Homo sapiens: one gene and its partner. The protein of the gene in region 1 interacts with the protein of each later gene in a pairwise test. Each region holds a gene or a part of one and is shown on either strand. Other genes may lie near its edges.

What was found.
Region 2: the proteins of MAP4K5 (region 1) and ZNF440 interact in a two-hybrid assay, tested with the Homo sapiens proteins (one large-scale study listed by BioGRID and IntAct).

The regions. Positions count from the first base shown.
Region 1 is NC_000014.9:50,434,994-50,438,820, forward strand, and holds part of MAP4K5 (mitogen-activated protein kinase kinase kinase kinase 5), read right to left. Parts: intron 3,102-3,827; coding exon 3,099-3,101; intron 3,016-3,098; coding exon 2,901-3,015; intron 2,542-2,900; coding exon 2,483-2,541; intron 73-2,482; coding exon 1-72. UniProt on the Homo sapiens protein: May play a role in the response to environmental stress. Appears to act upstream of the JUN N-terminal pathway.
Region 2 is NC_000019.10:11,824,152-11,827,978, reverse strand, and holds part of ZNF440 (zinc finger protein 440), read right to left. Parts: intron 413-3,827; exon of another isoform or gene 1-412. UniProt on the Homo sapiens protein: May be involved in transcriptional regulation.

The DNA of each region.
Region 1 (3,827 bases):
ACCACTGAAGTAAAACAATTCCAGACTGTAAAGCTCCACAGAGGTATTTATGTCCCGTGTAAGGGTTTCTGACTGGAAAGAAATAAACAAACAAAAAACCCAGACACACTCAAAATACTGAATACTTTCATTGTATCTGTTAACCAGGATGACAAGAGTGGGCAGAAAATAAAAAAAGACTGTGTCTTTTCTTTTGGCTTCATTGCCTTTTCCGTTTTACTTTCTTATCTCAATTTTAAATTATATATGTTTACTTCTAAACAACTTGCATATACTAGGTTGTTAAACATAAGAACTTTTGACAAGCACAATAACAACCTAACATGCAACCTAAAAAGGTGTTTTTTTCCCTTCCTCACTCCCTCCCGTCCTCCTTCTTTCTTTTTAAAGAGACAGGGTCTTGCTCTGTCATTCAGGCTAGAATGCAGTGGCACAGTAATAGCTAACTGCAGCCTCAATCTCCCAGGCTCAAGCAATCCTCCCACATCAGCCTCCTGAGTAGCAGAGACTATAGGTGTATGCCACCATGCCCAGCTAATTTTTCAATTTTTTTTTTTTTTAAGAGATGGGGTCTCACTATGTTTCCCAGGCTGGTCTTGAACTCCTGGACTCAACCGATCTTCCCATCTTGGCCTCCCCAAAAAGTTGTTTCTTAGTAAACTCAAAGAATGAGTTCTGACAAGGTCTAGGAGGCAACTAAAATGCACCTCGTTTTGGTATAGCAGTGTACAGATGTCTACTTAAGATGAAAATAATTCATCTTGTATGTATTAATTTATCATGATGTAATCTTGACTCAAATCTATAAAAATTCATATTGCTCTTTCCTTCTCCCAAATTTGATTTCCATTAATAATTATAATCATTGATTATAAGAATAGTTATTTGCATTAAACTCTAAAGTATTATTTATGAGTTTTTATCTTAGATTCCAAGTTTCTAGGCCTTTTGTGCATCACAGATCTTGGGAATCTGATAATAGATATTGACATGATTCTCCCTAGAAAAATAATATTTATAGCACATTTGTGGTTAAACATTTTTGTTTTACAGTATGGACTATGCTGTGAAACTATTATGTGGCACAAAGATCAATGTGTAAATTCATTGATCAAACAAAAGAATAAATAGGAAGTTAGGAACTTAAGATCTGAAGTCATTGAACCTGAATCTGATTCCTAAGCTCTGTTACTTACTAGTGACACAATCAGTATTATGGAGTTGTTTAAGGGTTAAATGAGATAATTATGTAGTAAAGAACTTAACCTCACCCAAAAAAGAGGTCTGGTCTCTGTCCTGCTTCTGGGAGGTAATTGCTAAGCCTTTGGAATGTCATGCTTGACAGGACTGTCTTTGTCTGGGGGACTCTGGTCACTGGATAATATAACAATAATGATTCAGGGTGGGGACTGGCTGCACTAGATAGTCTTAATGTGAGGGCTGGTCATGCCAGAAATACAAAAAATGTGATTTTGGGTGGGGGCTTTGGGTCATGTAACATCAGATGACCTTTAGTGGGGCTGCATACTGAGATCAGCAAGGTGGTCAATCAATCATGCCAGAAATACAAAAAATGTGATTTTGGGTGGGGGCTTTGGGTCATGTAACATCAGATGACCTTTAGTGGGGCTGCATACTGAGATCAGCAAGGTGGTCAATCAATCATGCCTTTGTGATGAAGCCCCAATAAAAACTCTGGACATCGAGGCTCGAATAAGCTTGTGGTTGGCAGTGGTTGGCAATGGTTGTGTGTTCTGCCACATACCAATGCTGGAAAAGTAACGCCATCCATTAACCATAGGGAGAGGACAACAGAAGCTCCATGTTTGGTATTTTTCCTGGACTCTGCCCTATGTACTTCTTCCCTTGGCTGATTTTAATCTATATTCTGTCCCTGTTCTAAACGGTAATGATTTTAATCTATATTCTTTCCCTGTTCTAAACGGTAATGATTTAAATCTATATTTTTTCCCTGTTCTAAATTGTAATCGTAACTATGAGTATAACTGCTTCCAGTTCCGTGATACCTTCTAGTGAATTTTTTTATTCTGGGGGTAGTTTTGGGAATCCCCTAACTTGCAATTGGTATCATAAGTGAGGGTGTTCTTGTGTGAACTGTTCCCTCTAACTGCATAGTTGGCTCAACTCCTGTAAACATGTTCATAAAACATGGGTGGTAACTGGTAGATGGCAAATATTAAATAAATGAAAGTTAGAATATTAGCAAAGATACAGCCTCAGGGACTATGGTTAAAAAACTCTAGGAACACTATGCTCTGAGAAAACGCTAAGGTTATTATCTCTAAGCATTTCTATGCCATGTCTGTCTATATTCTTGTACTTCAATGGCAGCTTAACTTCTTACTAAACACAAATTTTAAAAACCTACCCTCCTTCCTATTTGATTCCATACGACTCTTCAGATAATTATAAAGATGTTAAAAGTTCTAACCATTCAGTTTGAGAAATACCATTTACTCACCTATGCAACATTTGTGGCAGCCTTTTGTATCAGGAATCTTTGTTGTTAAAGCGAATTTTCTGAAAACGTAAGACGATATAAATGCACTCTACAGTAGTGGTTACAACACAATGATTTGTAAATCAGTTGCATCAGAATCAGACAGAAAGGAGCTTAAAAAACTGTCTTGGATCCTAACTCCACACTATCTCATCTTATAGGACTGAGGAAGGGCCTGACAGTCTGTATTATAAAACTTCCACAGTTGATTCTCATGGTCAAGTTCAGAAAACGTTCAGCTTTTCCAGATATAATACACTTTAGTTTAAACTACCTTTGAAAATTAAGACATAGTTTTTTACTGGGCAAGAAATACGGGCTATTTTTAAAATAAACACTAATTCCCCTCATTCAGTAGAATCAAAATGATATTTTGTACCTTGGTAGTATTCGGTCTGGAAACCTGTGAGTTTGAATATGGGCAGCTAATCCTGGTTTTTTGGCATGTTCAAACAAAGCTATAAGATTGTGAGAGTAGAGCTGAAAGGTTTTTCCTATAAAAGAAAAACATGTTACCTTTTTGAGAATCATTTACAGCAGAGAAATACAATTTTCGAGAAAAAGAAAACGTAATTACCTTCTAAAACGAGAGTCCAGTAATGTTCAAAAAGCCAAGCAAAATAGAAAAACACACACAAAAAAACCCTCAGTTAATACTATTTTGAAAGACAATAGATAAAATGTTTTTAAATTAACAGATAATTTTAATTCAGAATATATAAATTAGGTACTAATAGGTGATCTGGGCAGACTAAACCTTAATGATGCCAGCACACAAAAAGAAATTGTTGTACAAAATCTTATGTTATGGACTGAGTTACAATGATGTACATGTGATTATTTTAATACAAGATGGAAAATTCTATAAAGCTATATTATTATTTCTCTGGGACAGACCTATTTATCAATAACTTAACAAATTACCTTGGATTAAAAATCATTGTGAATGAAGTCTTAAATATAACAGATGGAAATACTTAAAAAAGTAAAACCAACCAATATTATAAGCCATGATACAAGGATAACAGGGCTACAATTCCATATAATAAAAAATATGGCTGTATTAAGTAAGAGGGATGGATATGGTAAACATCATCTGATTTCTCACTATATATGGTATGATAATATAACAATACAAAACAATATTTATCTTTTTATTATTAGAAAACATACATATATACACACACATATACACAGTTTTATCCTCAACAAAATTATCTGTATGTTCTCAGAACAGAAATATTCTGCCTAAACATTAAACACCCTTCCTTTCTCCATTTCCCCAATCTACATAGTTTGCTACCCA
Region 2 (3,827 bases), on another chromosome or scaffold:
ACTCAATAAACTAAATATATAAGAGAAGATTCCATAAGATGACAAGAGAGGCACTAGGAACACAGAAAAATCTACTATAAAGACGTGTATTAAAAATGCAAGCTGGAGGCCAAGGCGGACAGATCATTTGAGCCCCGCAGTTCGAGACCAGCCTGGGCAACATAAGGAGATACCCGTCTCCATAATAAAATAAAAAATTAGACATGGTGGCACAAAACAAATGGTATTGAAACACCTGAATTAGCAAATGCAAAGAAATGAATTAGACACAGAACTGCACCTTTTACAAAACTACTTCCTAATGAATCGTTTACTTATATGGAAAATGCAAAACTCACAATTTCACACTTGTCAAAACCAAGACGACCTTGATTTGGCAATAAGATTTCACACACAACACAAAAAGCATGATCTGTGAATGAGAAAATCAATAAATTGGACTTCATTCAAAACAAAAATGTTTTGGAAAAGACTGTTAACAGAATAAAAAGACAGGCGGCAGACTGGGACAAAATATTTGCAGAACAGCTATCTGATCAAGAACTGGTACCCAAAAGGTATGAAGAACTCCTAAAATTCTATAAGAAAAAAACCAACCAATCAAAAAATAAGCAAAACGCTGGGTGCGGTGGCTCATGCCTTAATCCCAGCACTTTGGGAGGCAGAGACGGGTGGATCACCGAGGTCAGGAGTTTGAGACCAGCCTGACTAACATGGTGAAACCCCGTCTCTAGTAAAAATACAAAAATTAGCCGGGCCTGGTGGCATGAGCCTGTAATCCCAGTTACTCAGGAGGCTGAGGCAGGAGAATCACTGGAACCCGGGAGACAGAGGTTGCAGTGAGCCAAGATTACGCCACTGCCCTCCAGCCTGGGTGACAGAGCCAGACTCAGTCTCAAAAAAAAAAAAAAGCCCAATCTTTCCAAGTATACCTCCCGCTAAAGAATGTAATTATGGCAAACAAACATATGACAGGATGCTCTACATTACATGTTATTAAAGAGCAAATGAAAACAGCCCGGGCGCAGTGGCTCATGCCTGTAATCCAGCTCTTTGGGAAGCTGAGGCAGGTTGATCACCTGAGGTCAAAAGTTTGAGACCAGCCTGGCCAACACAGTGAAACTCTGTCTCTACTAATAATACAAACAGTGGCCATGTGTGGCAGCATACACCTGTAATCCCAGCTATTCGGGAGTCTGAGTCAGGAGAATCGCTTAAACCCGGGAGGCAGAGGCTGCAGTGAGCTGAGATCGCACCATTGTACTCCGGTCCGGGCAACAAGATTTGAAACTCTGTCTCCAAAAAAAAAAAAAAAAGGAAAAAAAATTAAAAAAGGAAAACAACAATGAAGCACCAGCAAATACCTGGTGGAGTAGCTAAAATCCAAAACACTGACACTTCCAAATGCTGGAGACAGTGAACTCTCCTTCACTAGGGATGTGAATGGAAAATTCTACAGCCAATTTGGAAGACAGTCTGCGGAGCTCTGAAGAAAATAGGCATGGTCTTACTGATTCAGTAGTCTCATTCCTACATATTGACTCAAATGAACTAAAAACTGATGTCCACACGAAAGTCCTCCCACAAACGTTTTTAGCAGCCTTACTCATAACTGCCAAAAACTAGAATCAAACAAGGTGAGTCTTAAAAAAAAAAAATAGATAAGGTCTCACACGGTATCTACCAGGCTGTTCTCTAACTTCTGGCCTTAAGCAATCTCATCTCAGTCTCCCATGTGCTGGGAACTCAGGGATGAGGCGTGACACCAGGCTCAAGATGAGCCTTTCAACAGGTGAATAAAGAAACAAACTATGGTAACATCCGTACAATAGAATGTTATTCAGTGATGAAAGAAAATGAGTGGCCCTGGCCGCGTGCGGTGGCTCACGCCTGTAATCCCAGCACTTTGGGAGGCCGAGCGGGTGGATCACCTGAGGTCAGGAGTTCGAGACCAGCCTCAACATGGAGAAACCCCGTCTCTACTAAAAATACAAAATCAGCCGGGCGTGATGGTGCATGCCTGTAATCCCAGCTACTCGGGAGGCAGAGGCAGGAGAATTGCTTGAACCTGGGAGGTGGAGGGTGCAGTGAGCCAAGATTGCACCAATGAACTCCAGCCTGGGCAAGAAGAGTGAAACTCTGTCTCAAAAAAAAAAAAAAAGAAAAGAAAAGAAAAGAAAAAAAAAAGAAAATCAGTGGCCGGACATGGTGGCTCACAAGTGGAATTCAGGCACTTTGGGAAGCTGAGGCGGGAGGATCACCTGAGCTGGGGAGTTTGAGACCCTGTCTCTCACAAAACAAAAATCTTTAGATAAAGAAAGAAAAATAAAAAATAAATGAGTTGTCAAGCAACAAAGGTATTTAGAGACCTTCAAAGCATATTTTTACATGAAAGAAGCAAGTCTGAAATGGCCACTTACAGTATCATTCCAAATATGTGATATTCTGGAAAATGCAAAACTCTAGAGGCAGGAACATCATCATTTGTTGCCAGGGATAAATAGGGGTGGCAAAAGAGGGAGGGGAGAGGTATGATTAGAAGGAGCACAGGGGATTTTGAGGGCAGTAAAACACTTCTCTATAAGACTGTGATGGTGGATACATGACACATAGTTGTCTTAAACCACAGAACACAAAGAGTGAAGCCTAATGTAAAAGATGGACTTTAGGTAATAATAACATTGGCTTCTTCAATTTCCATCATGTTCACATGTAATATATTCTTGCATCAGTTGCAGGATACACTACACAAAGTCAATATGGTTTCTTTGGTTTCAAACAGTTTTTATTTTTTATTTTTTATTATTTTTTATTTTTTTTATTTTTGGAAACAGGGTCTTGCTATGTTGCCTAGGCTGGCCTCCAACTCCCGAGTCCAAGCTGTCCTGCTGCTTTGGCCTACCTAAGTGGTAGGATTACAGGTATAAGGCTCAGCACCTGGCCAGTCAAGATGTTTAGAATAGGGGGAACTATGCTGGGTACGGTGGCTCACGCCTGTAATCCCAGCACTTTGGGAGGCTGAGGTGGGCGAATCACAAGGTCAGGAGTTTGAGACCAGCCTGGTCAATATGGTGAAACCCTCTCTCTACTAAAAAATACAGAAATTAGTTGGGTGTGGTGGTGTGCGCCTGTATTCCCAGCTACTCGGGAGGCTGAGGCAGAAGGATTGCTAGAACCCAGGAGGCGGAGGTTGCAGTGAGCCGAGATCATGCCACTGCACTCCAGCCTGGGCAACAGAGCAAGATTCTATCTCAAAAAAAAAAAAAAAAAAAGGGTGGTGGGGGGAACTATGAGCCTGGAATAAAAATGCTGGAACTCTGTGGATTATCTGCCCAATGTTTTGGGGAAACAACCACTGTTCTAAATAATAAAATCCATTAAATAAGAAAGTGAATTAACTATCATTCCATATAAGGTTCATAACTGAGTTAAAATAAAATCCGATATAAAATATCACATATCGGTTATCATTTGCATAAAAAACATGCAAAAATAAAACACACTGATGAGGATGCATACCCAGGTTGAGAAAGTATAAGGAAAAGTAAGGCAGTTATCTTATTCCCAATACTGGTTCCATCATTATTTGAATTCATTGTGCAATTCTTTTATGTATTTTGTGCATACATAATATTTTTAGTAAGTTTCTAGAATGCACACTCTATACAGAAATAAATCTCAGCGAATTTTAATTATCAGCAACAAGTTGCTGAATGTAATTTTTAAAAGACAGCATATCCTATTGAAACTAATTTTTTTCTTTTTTCTTTTCTTTTCTTTTTTTTTTTTTTTTTTTGAAACAGGGTATCATTCTGTTGCCCAGGCTG